Linked DNA regions of Homo sapiens: region 2 is reported to be linked to region 1. The links are microRNA targets in miRTarBase. Many come from high-throughput screens and were not tested one by one. Region 1 holds a microRNA gene; the other region holds the end of a gene's coding sequence.
What was found. The annotated mature microRNA hsa-miR-548h-3p reads CAAAAACCGCAAUUACUUUUGCA and lies in region 1 at 3,726-3,748, shown strand. An mRNA with a match to its seed (bases 2 to 7 or 8) in the 3' UTR can be bound and repressed. Matches are read on the target gene's strand: a 7mer-m8 pairs with bases 2 to 8, a 7mer-A1 pairs with bases 2 to 7 and ends in A, and an 8mer does both.

Region 2: miRTarBase lists MRGBP as a target of hsa-miR-548h-3p. Seed matches in the 3' UTR shown: 7mer-A1 at 3,828-3,834 and 7mer-A1 at 3,585-3,591.

What each region holds. Positions count from the first base shown.
Region 1 is chr8:27,047,240-27,052,618 of GRCh38, reverse strand. It overlaps MIR548H4 (microRNA 548h-4), which reads left to right and starts at 3,656; the gene lies at 3,656-3,766.
Region 2 is chr20:62,798,861-62,804,239 of GRCh38, reverse strand. MRGBP (MRG domain binding protein) reads right to left here. Exons shown (of 5, transcript NM_018270.6): 4 at 5,191-5,265; 5 at 2,511-4,784. The coding sequence ends at 4,597. It overlaps OGFR-AS1 (OGFR antisense RNA 1), which reads left to right. Exons shown (of 3, transcript NR_102430.1): 2 at 2,131-2,225; 3 at 3,161-3,613. Among named protein-coding and RNA genes, the nearest start is that of OGFR, 3.3 kb to the left of the region's middle.

The DNA of each region.
Region 1 (5,379 bases):
CATGTTGTTTGCCTTTGGATGGTCAGTTGTTCCAATGCCATTTGTTGAAAAAGCTATCCTTTCTCCATTGAACTGCTTTGGATCTATGTCAAAAATTAGGTGAGCATATCTGTATGAGTCTGGATCCTGGATTTTTTTTTTCTTTTCCACTGATCTATGTGTCTGCCCCTTTGCCAATACTATGGTGTCTTGATTGTCTCGATTACTCTAGCCATACAGTTACATGTTAATAATCAGCAGAGTAATTCCTATATTTTATTCTTGTTTGTCAAGATTACTTTAGCTATCGTAGGGTCTCAAACTTTTCATATAAATTCTAGAGTAAGCTTGTCTTTCGCAACGAAAACTTTGCTGGGATTTTGATAGAAATTGCATTAAGCATATAGAGAATTTGGCCAGAACTGACATCTTTACTATGTTGAGTCTTAAACTCGGTATGTTTTTCCATTTAGCTCCTTGATTTCTTTCATTTAATCTTTAATTTTTGACAATTTAACTATGATGTATCATGGTGTCTCTTTGGATTTGTCATCTTTTATGTCTTATGGGTTTCCGGGATCTGGCTTTCTAATGTCTTCCTGAGACTTCGGAAGTGTTCTGCCGTCATTTCCTTGATTATGTTTTATATCCCTTTCTCTGTTTCTTTTCCCTGTGGCACACCAATAATGCATAATTTGTTCTGCTTAATGGTGTCCCATTGGTCTCTTCATCTATAATTACCTCTTTTTATTCTTTTTTGTTTTTGCTTCTCAGACTGAATGATTTCCAGTGATCTGTCTTCAGGTTCACAATTTTTCCCCCTGATTGTTCTAGTTTGTTATTGAACCCCGCTATTGAATTTTTTAATTCAGTTATAGCATTCTTCAGATCTATGATTTCCATGTGATACTTTTTTATACTGTATCTTTGTTGAAGTTCTCAGCTTGTTCTTGGATTGCTGTCTTGACATCTATGAGTAACCTTATGGCCATTATTTAGAATTTTCTGTCAGGTAAATCACAAAACTCCACTTCATTCAAGTATGTTTTTGGAGATTTATCTTGTTACTGTTTGTTTTGTTTGTTTGTCTTATTGTTTGTTTGTTTTGTTCCTATTTCTTTCTTTTCCTTGATTTTCAGTATTGGTTTTTTTACATTAGGTAGAAACCTACTTCTTAGTAGACTGAGATTGCATAGAAGGTTTCTACCAGTCCGTTTGACTAGAGATTTTAAGGTGCCCCTCTTATTTCGGTGTTTGTTCAGACTGCTGTGCCTATACCAGAAGGTCTATGACATCTTATAGTACTAGAAGTCTTATCATGACATTTTTGTTAAAAACTTAGAAATTGATTTCTGAAAAGATTTTACAAATGTAGTGAGGTATTTTCTGTATTTTATCATACTAAATAATCTCCAAATAATCTGATAAATGAGCATAGTGTTCAGAAAAAACCTCTTTTAATGTGATGAATCTTTTATAGATTTAGGCATATTTATGGCAAACCGACTATGCTGTATCAGTCCCCCTTCACACCCCCGAGGCTCAACTGAGATTTACCATTGGAATTAATTGTGAATGGCTTTGTCTCAGGACTATAACATATTCCAAGCTAGAGGTTTCAGGAACAAAGCGTCTGCATCTGTCTTTGTCTTTAGCCCTCACGTGAGGAGCCCATTTATTAGCCTTCTTTATTAATTTTTTATATGGAGAAGTGACTCAACATGTACTAGACAGCCAAATAAATTACTGATCATCTCCTTCTATGCACAGTTTCATATTACCAAAAACTATACGCATATATGAGTTAAACAATTTGGTAATATGTTAACAACATAATATCTAGAAGTATCTCACCACTTAAAACATACGTGCACAAACACACATATTCAATCTTGTTGGCTTTTATTTGTTTCAATACTATAATTCTATTTTTGATATCCCTTCAATTATAATTTAGTTTCCATTGTTATGATATATAAATATATTTGTGCATAGACTATTTGGATATTTTATATTTGCATTAACTAAAAATTTTCACCGCATTTTTGCATGCATAATTTTGTTCTATTTCTTTCTCAATTTTGCTTTAAAAAGTATCTTCATTTTGCAGATGTGCAAGCTGAACAGAGGATTAGAACTTATTTTTTCTAAAAATCTAACAGTTAACTTCTAGCAGCATTGAGACCAGAATATAGATCTTCTGACTCCAGGCTCTTTGCGGTAAACATCAATCCCTCTGTGGCTAATGTCCAAACACAAGATGAAAGAAAACGTGGAGCAGAATACAAAAGGAATTATTTCATGCTGCATTCAGAGGTGTCATTCATACCCAGGAAGCACTTTTAATTACCAATCTGGTGTTAATTTTCTTATCTGTGTCTCATCTGTGACTAAACATTATCCAGCCCAGGCTGATAAATTCTGATATGAATCAGATATTATTTCAAATTTATGCTTTAGCCATACCCATGTAAGCAGTCTCCTACCCCATATATCTCATTTACAGAGACTGTTTATTTGTAGTTAACTTTTAAAAATTCAGATTCATAGAATTACAACTATAAATTGCCAAACATGTATAGAATTATTATTATACAGAAAATAATATCAGTGTCATTATATCCAATTAATCTTTCATTCAGAATCTTGTGCAGAACAGATTAAATTGAGAACTTAATTTTTTACACATTCACGATTTAACCAGAGAATGTGGCTCTATTTTATATTAACAAATAATTTCTTTGTTTATTCAATAAGCAGTATTCATTGTATTATTAAAAAATGGTCTACTCATAAGGTTTTAAAACAATTGAGTCTATTTATTTCTTTTCCCCTCATGTGTTAATATTTTTTTTGCCTAGTGCTTTAGAAAATATATGACCTAGAAAGCAGCCTAATTCTTGTCACAGCTGCAACCTTACTGATGCAGAAAATTTGGCATTTATATACAATGAAGCTGTCTCTAATGCTTTGTCCACCTTCTAGAATCCCCTTTGTTTAATTACTATGTTTGGAGCCTCAAAAAGGGCCTGCTTTCAGGAATAAGTGGATGGGAATGAGGGGATGCTGATGTGTGAATAAAACGGTGATATAAAAGAAAATGGCTAATTCCCCCCTCTGGCTGAAGTCTGTGGAGGTTGTTCTGCCTGTCACTGATAGCTGTGTGAGTCAGTCTCCAATTTGGGAATTACAATCCTGACCCACCCCCACACCAGGATTGCCCCTGCTACACGTTTCCATGGTGCCAAACTTCCCTGTCCTAGCACGTGATGGCAATTGCTTCTGCTTTCCCTGATAGATGTGCAGGGTTGGGGACAATGCTTGCCTTCCCAGAGTCACATCAATATCTCGCACAGAGCTGGCACATGGCGGGCCCTTCATAAATGCTTGTTCAATGAAAGAATAAAGACAGTTTAAAATTTGAGCTCATTTCTGCCTTTTTCTTTTTAATAGCTTTATCAAAGTATAAATTGATAGACAGAAAAACCCCACATGTATTTCATGTGTACAATTTGATGAGCTTGGGTATACATATACACCCATGATATCATCACAATCAAAATGATAAACATATCCATCGCCTCCAAAAGTTTCCTCTGCCCCCTGCTTTTTGTGGCAAGTGTACCACAGAAAACTTGAAGCCAAACTTGTGATCCTTCGTTGTTCCATTTCCAAAGCTATTAGGTTGGTGCAAAAGTAATCGCGGTTTTTGTCATTACTTTAATTACTTTACGTTTCATTAATGACAAAAACCGCAATTACTTTTGCACCAACCTAATACTTGCTATCATCACTTCTTGTCTATTTTCCATTCCTCTTATAAATGTTGTACAAACTAAATCACACTTAAATAAAATAAATGGGAAATAAAGAAAAAGGAAAAAAGGATGAATGCAGGGAAAAAACACTGCCTGGGTCTGTCTTCTGTCATTCCCCAAAATAACAAGCACAAGCCCTGATATTCATATTCCCAGCATTCACCAGTTGCCCTTTTTTTTTTTTGAGATGGAGTTTCACTCTTGTCGCCCAGGCTACAGTGCAATGGCGTGATCTTGGCTCACTGCAACCTCCACCTCCCAGGTTCAAGCGATTCTCCAGCCTCAGCCTCTCGAGTAGCTGGGACTACAGGTGTGCACCACCATGCCTGACTAATTTTTGTATTTTTAGTAGAGATGGGGTTTTGCCATGTTGGCCAGGCTGGTCTCAAACTCCTGACCTCAGGTGATCCGCCAGCCTTGGCCTCCCCAGATCCTGGGGTTATAGGCGTAAGCCACCCTGCCCGGCCCAGCTGACTTTTATCTTGAGTGACAGTTTTAGAGAAAGGAGGAGGAGGAAATTAGTATATATGGCAGTAGTATGACATTTCATGATCTTAAAAATAGATTTCACCAACTGTAGAAGGTGTTCCCTAAACTAACTGCCTGTGTAGTCTTAATCTTCTCAACGTAACAACAGGTAGTCCATATTGTGGCAGGGTTGGGAGGTGGTGATGGAAAGGGGAGGTGTGAATTCCACAAGGTCTGAGACTGGGACAGGAAGTCTCCATTTTGGCAGTGCTGGTGGGGTAAGAAAGGGCTAATTAGAAGAAAATGCAGAAGCTGAAGTTGAAAGATCAGGCAAAGGCAAAATACTGGTCTAGTAGGAAGTCCAGATCATGGTCAAGTTGGATGGCTTCAGAGGGAGCTATTCAGATGGGCTCCAAAAGTGTCAGCGATCTTCTCTGATAAGCTACCCAAGCTCAGGGCAGGGATACTGATGCTCATTTTATGGTAAGAGCCAGCAAATGAGATGCACTGATTCCACGTTTGTGGATTCTAAACAGCATTTTGCCTTCCTTCTCTATAGTCCTCTTTGCAGCACTCCACGTTACCACCACGGGCATCCCAGATGTTCCTCCTTCATAAACACCTCTAGTTGTTCGCTTTCCCAACTCATCCCTTTTCCCAGCCTCAAGGAAGATAAATCAGTTTTGGGCATTAACTTCCATCCAGTGCACTGGGCTGAGGAATCAGCATGGCTGATTCTGCTATCACTTTCACGAAGCCTGGGGGCAAATGAGGGGAGTAGGGAGGGGTTGGGACCAGGGCACACACATATTGTGAATCTAGGAAGAATCTTAGGATTAAAGCTGTTGCATTTTCCACTTGTATTGAAGCCTTGGGGGTAATGGCTATCCCTTTACCACACTCTCCACCTGACTAAGCTCTCTTCAGCAGAACAATCAACCCAGGCTATGGCTGACTTCATCCAGGGAGACCTAAATTTTTCCATTTACTAGGACTTCTTGGACTTTTTTTTTTCTTTTAATAACCATATAGTCAGCTTTACCCACAATGCATCACCTCTTGTCATCCTCAGACACAACGTGAGACATAAGTTGCACTGACCAACTGAATCCTT
Region 2 (5,379 bases), not on the chromosome of region 1:
GGAAGCTGCTGGCGGACCCCTGTCCCTCCATAGGCAGTGCAAAGCACGGCCGTTTTCTTTTCAAAGCCACCAGGGGAGTCTTTCTCTCTAGGGTGCCGAGTCTTATATAACCAGGATGACATGGGCAAGCCGTGGCTTCCTTCACCTTTGCCGCCATCTCTCAGTTGTAAGAAGGCACTTAGGGGAGAGGACCACACGAAGCCTGGGCCACCGGGAGGGTCACCCTGGGGACTGTTCAACACAGCTGATGCCAGTTCAGCGCCTCCTCAGGGCCCTCTCTCTAAGCACTGGCAGATATGGGGCAACACAAAGTCACTTTCACCTGCCATTTCCCAGCACCGCGGGTCCCTTGCTCATCCACCTTTGACATCTGCTGGCAGATACATGGCAAGGTTGGTGACCTCTTGAAATAAAAATCAGGAGTGGCCACTCCAGATAAATTTCTTCTGTAACTGCTATACCAATTCATTTCAAAACATTTAGGTAAAACTAAATCTGGATTTTGGACTTGGCCATGAGGATAGCTCCTCGCAGAGTTGTCCCTGTAATGATGGTGGTGGAAAGGTGGAGAAGGCCCCAGCCCAGCCCCTAGGGGACACTGCCATCTCCTAGCCCTGCAGGCCTGCTGGGCCTGGGAACTGGTGACATTCCTTGTACTGTGTGCCAGGGACAGCCGTGAACGCAAGTCTTCCAATCCTGGCCACAAGTACAGGTTAAGGACCCTCTGGGTGCTGGGCCCTAATCTTTGCTGACCTGTTGACCACTGTTAGCAGGTGCAGTCTCACCTGGCTGGAACCTGTGGACATGCATCACACTTTCTTGAAACGACAGTGGTGATGCCCCGAAGTTCTGGGGCGCTGGACATTTCTGTAAATCAACTTAGTGCAGTGGCCAGGGCAGGTTTCCCAGGGAGCCTGAGTGAGCTGCCTGACCTCCTTGTTAGATGATTTACAGGTGGGATCTGGTTGCAGCATCAGAATAGACTGTGAGGTGGAGTCGGGGGGCTCTGATGGGGACATTGATGGGTGCTGGGTGGTTGTATAGGGTTTGGGTGATCTGAGACTTGGGTGGTCAGGCTGCCCCCTCCACTGCCCCAGAAAACAGAAAGACAAGCATACTGGGTGCTGACAACATTGTTCTACGGGGACAGCATTCCCGCTGCTACCTACTGTCGGCAGGACTATAGAACCACTTCCCTAAAAAGAGTATTAGAGACATTGCCCAACTTCTGTTTTACAAATATCACCACACCAAATTGCTTCTTTAGTTGCTTTTGTGTTGTGTGTGTGTGTGTGTGTGTGCAGAGCTCATCTCGGGGGCGTGCTAATCCAAGAAGTGCAGGAGCTGCTGCAGGGGACTGTGCAACAGAATTGCTTCTTCAGAGCATCCTCTGCAGTCCAGTGACGCCCCGTGTGGCACGGCATTCCAGAAGGGTTTGCTGTTGAGGCTGGGGAAAGGGGCTCTCTTTCTCTGTCACATACTCACACACACACACACACACACACACACACACACACACACACACACACAGCTCCCAGGCACCCAGGAAGGGCAATGGTCTCTGCACACGCAGTGGGTGATGTGCCTGGAGCAGGCAATGCTCACAGCTAAGGAGCCCAGCAGAATTTTGTGTGGCTGGGAGCTTGGATTACAGCCTTCATATCTTCTCCAGGCAAGACCAGTGGCAGCCTCCTGATTTGGCCCAAGCATGCCCTGTCCTCAATCAACCAGCCAAGCAGGGAGCCTCGCTGCCAGTGCCCTGCCGCTCAGTATTTATTCGCTGCTATTTGGGGAGCAGTGGAGCCCAATTGCCTTTCCCAGTCACCCCTGGGTCGCCCTGGGTGGGCAGGCGGGGGAGTTCAGATCACTCCCACTCTCAGCCTTCACTGAGTCCCCACCCGCAGCTGCCAGCCATAGAGAAAATGTCTCTGCGGCAGCAGGTGCTCTTGGGCCCTGCGTGTTCCAGGTGTAGAGCCGCTGCTGAGGCTTCCAGGCTCAACATCAGCGGCGGCTTCTGACCCGTTCAGATCTTGTCCCGAGTGCACAGTGTACCACGTCTCGCCTCTACAGCAGCAGGCGCGTGAGCGTCCGTGCACGGGCCAGCCTCATGCCAGCTGTTTTCCTTTTCAGATTGGGGTTCAGTCGGCACCTTCTACATGACATGGTGGAGTGTGCATTACATAAAGCCCCCAGGTTACAGACAGGACCCCTGGGGCCAGGAGAGGGTAAGTACAGCGCTTACCAGGACTTGAGGCCACATCGCCCTTGCCCTGACACTTGTGAATTTGACCTGGTCATCCCACCTGCCAGCAGAGCATGAACTGGGCCTCCCCACAGGGAAGCCCAGAAGCCCCTGTGAGTCCATAAGGGCTGCGTGGCTCCTGACTTCAACCAGTCAGCCTCTGGTCCAGAAGGGAGGCCCGGGGCGGGGGCACGCTGCTCACCTGCCCAGTGGGCTTAACCTGTGGGCTCTAGCTTTCTCCTGGAAGTGCAGCAAAATGTTACAGTAATCGAGATGAGGCAGATTTATTAACTAGGCTTTCCTAGCACAATCTGAGGTCACCCGAGATGCGGTTTCAGATGGAGGTTTAGGACAGTGAGCCTGGGTGGCGAGCAGGACTCCTCCTGGCCATCCCGTGACACCCCGTGTTAGTATTTGCCCCCCTTTGCCCTGCTGCTTCTGGACTGCCTAAGAGCCAGGCTGCTGTCCCGGACTGAGACTCCAGGACAGGACCTGGCACAAAGCCCTGAATGAGGCTGACCTAACAGGAGAGATCAGACGGGCAAGGGGGCACACTTGGGCAGCAAAGGGAGACCCCACCCTTCCCTGGCTGCAGGGCTGAGTATTTGTGCTGTGAGTGGAGGAATGCCAGGCGGGCTCAGTCCTTTGGTCTATGTGTGTGGGGCCCTCCAGATGCCTGCTCTTTGTGGCAGGCTGTTACTGCAGGGCTGTGGATTTGTCCCGGCTCTATAGAAAAGGGACCCACAGGGTCCCCCCAGGCAGCTGCTCTACCCTTGGAATACAGCTCAGGCAGGCCGTAGACCAGCAGCTTCCCTGGGCTGTTCTTCCCCAGAACTGGCAGTGCGTTTGGTGCAGACGAGTGGCAGGTGCCACACGGGGCGATCACATGGCACGGGATTCCTGGCTTTGCCCCTTTAGTGGGTGCCTTGTGATCTGCGTCATGGTGAGGAGGACTTCAGGGACAGATGGCCAGGGATGTTCCCAGGTGGTGGAGGAGGCTCCACTGGCAGAGAAGCAACGTCAAGCTGAAGACATTGGGGTGCGATGGCTGGCCAGGACAGCTTGTCTCCTCGTCCGCACACGGAACGCTGGATTTCACTCTGTGACCCAGCCAGCGGTCTCATCTCACAGCCGCAGCTTTCAGCAGGAAGGAGCCCACTGGTGCCTGCCTGACCTACGAGGGCCCGCACCGTTTTGCCCTCCTAACATTTTGTATTTGAAGTGCTTGTCACAGTCCACAAAATAACCACTCAGAATCTGTTACTATTTTGTTTATATGTTGTATCAAGTGAATGTTAATAAGTCATCTAAGTGTATGCTTTAGTTATAAATCTTGGAAAAATAAAAACTTCCTTTTGGAGGAAAAGTGAACTTACTTTGGTATCAAAATCACACAACTCCAGGTTGGATTTTTTTGTGCTTTAATGTTCGCAGTCACACGAAAGTGGCATCTCCATCAGCACTGGGGCGGCCGCCTCCTCATCAGCCGACAGCTGCACGGTCCCCGCCTCTCATCCATTTGGTCTGTTTGCAAGTTACTAGATCATACAAAAATAACCGCTACAAATTCTCTGTATCTGGCATATAAAAACTGAGCAAAAAGTATCTCTTAAAGCAAAACATCTCAGAAAAAATACAACACAGGTTTAACTTCTGCAGTACTTTGTTCATATAAAACACTAGTAAAATAGGCTTCTTAAAAATTAAATAGTGAAATACCAACCAAATTATATACATTGTTACAGTACAAGTGAATGAGGCAAAATATCCAGTTCTTAGTTTCCCAGGTGGGTGGGGGTGGCCTTCAGTGCGTGGCACGGAGGGGGTGACAGGAAGGCCACGTTCCAATGTCACAGTCAGCGCAGAAAGAGGCTTGCAGCGGGACAAACAGATGGAAAGAACTGAGTCACACAGGGAAGACCAGGGGCTCCTTTGAGGAAGAGTGAGGTCATGTTTTTATTGCTTGCTAATCCGAGGTTTTCCCTGGCCCGATGCCCCTCTAGGTAGCCTGGATCCCAAATGCTGCAGCCCACGTAGCGCTAATCCATGTCACCAAGCAGCCACGGGGAAGCCACAGCTGCTCCAGAGAAGACAGAACTAGGCTTCAGAGCCCTCAATATCTGAGCTGGACCGATCCTGGTCTTTCAGGTCCATCAGGGTCCCACATGGTCCAACTGACACACACGTTTCCCCGCTGACGGCCACGTTCACCTGAGAGCCTGAGGGCGGGCAGTGTGGGCTCATGGCACTGGGATGGTATCACTGTGGCCTGGGGGGTGGCACTCAGACCCAGCCAACCCCCTCAGCGACCACAGTGCCTCGCCCGCTTCTCTGCCGCCACCAGGGCTGAGGGTCTACGTGCGGCGCCGCTTGGCAGCACTGGGACTGGAAGGGTTGCTGTTTGCGGTCAGGACTTTGTCGGTGACCCGGCTGCGCTTCCGCTTGTCTGCGCCTTCTTTGCACCCCAAGTCTGAGGAGTTCTTCTCTTTGTCTTTGCTGGATTTTTCTGATGCTTTCCCCAAACTCCCTGAAGATGAAAAAACTGAGAAACGAAAAATCACTTGGCTGAAAACAGAATATCCAGAATCTTATTTTTGTCTTCCTGTTCAGTTAAAAAAATCTGCATACTGACACGTGACCCTCTGAACCCAAAGCTTCCTCCTGAGCTGGGAGCCCCTTGCATTTGGGCCCACAGAGGGGCCTGGTCCTCCTGAGGACCTGCCTGCGGCGGGCACTGCAGGGACCGCCGCTCAGACCCTGGCCTACAACATGGAGCAGGCACTCAGCTCCTGGGGAGGGGGCACTGCAGGATCCATCCTGTGCCTAGATGACCTGCCTGGGGCCTCTGCACCGCAGGCTCTACGCCCACCTGACTGTGCCCTGCCTGAAGGCAGTCTTGGGGTGCTGAGCCCCAAAGGGCATCAGGGCAGGGTGAGCTCCACACTCACCATCGTCAGCCCCATTGTGGGGGTCCACGTCTTCCTTCATCTCCTCTTTCATCTCCTCTTCTATCATCACTTTTCCTGTGGAGGAGACAGCTGACGCTCACCGAAAACCCACGGTGGTGGCCGACGCTGGGGGATGGTCAGGCCAGGGACTGCTCCGACGCTTGCTGCCCACACAGGCCTCAGCTTCCG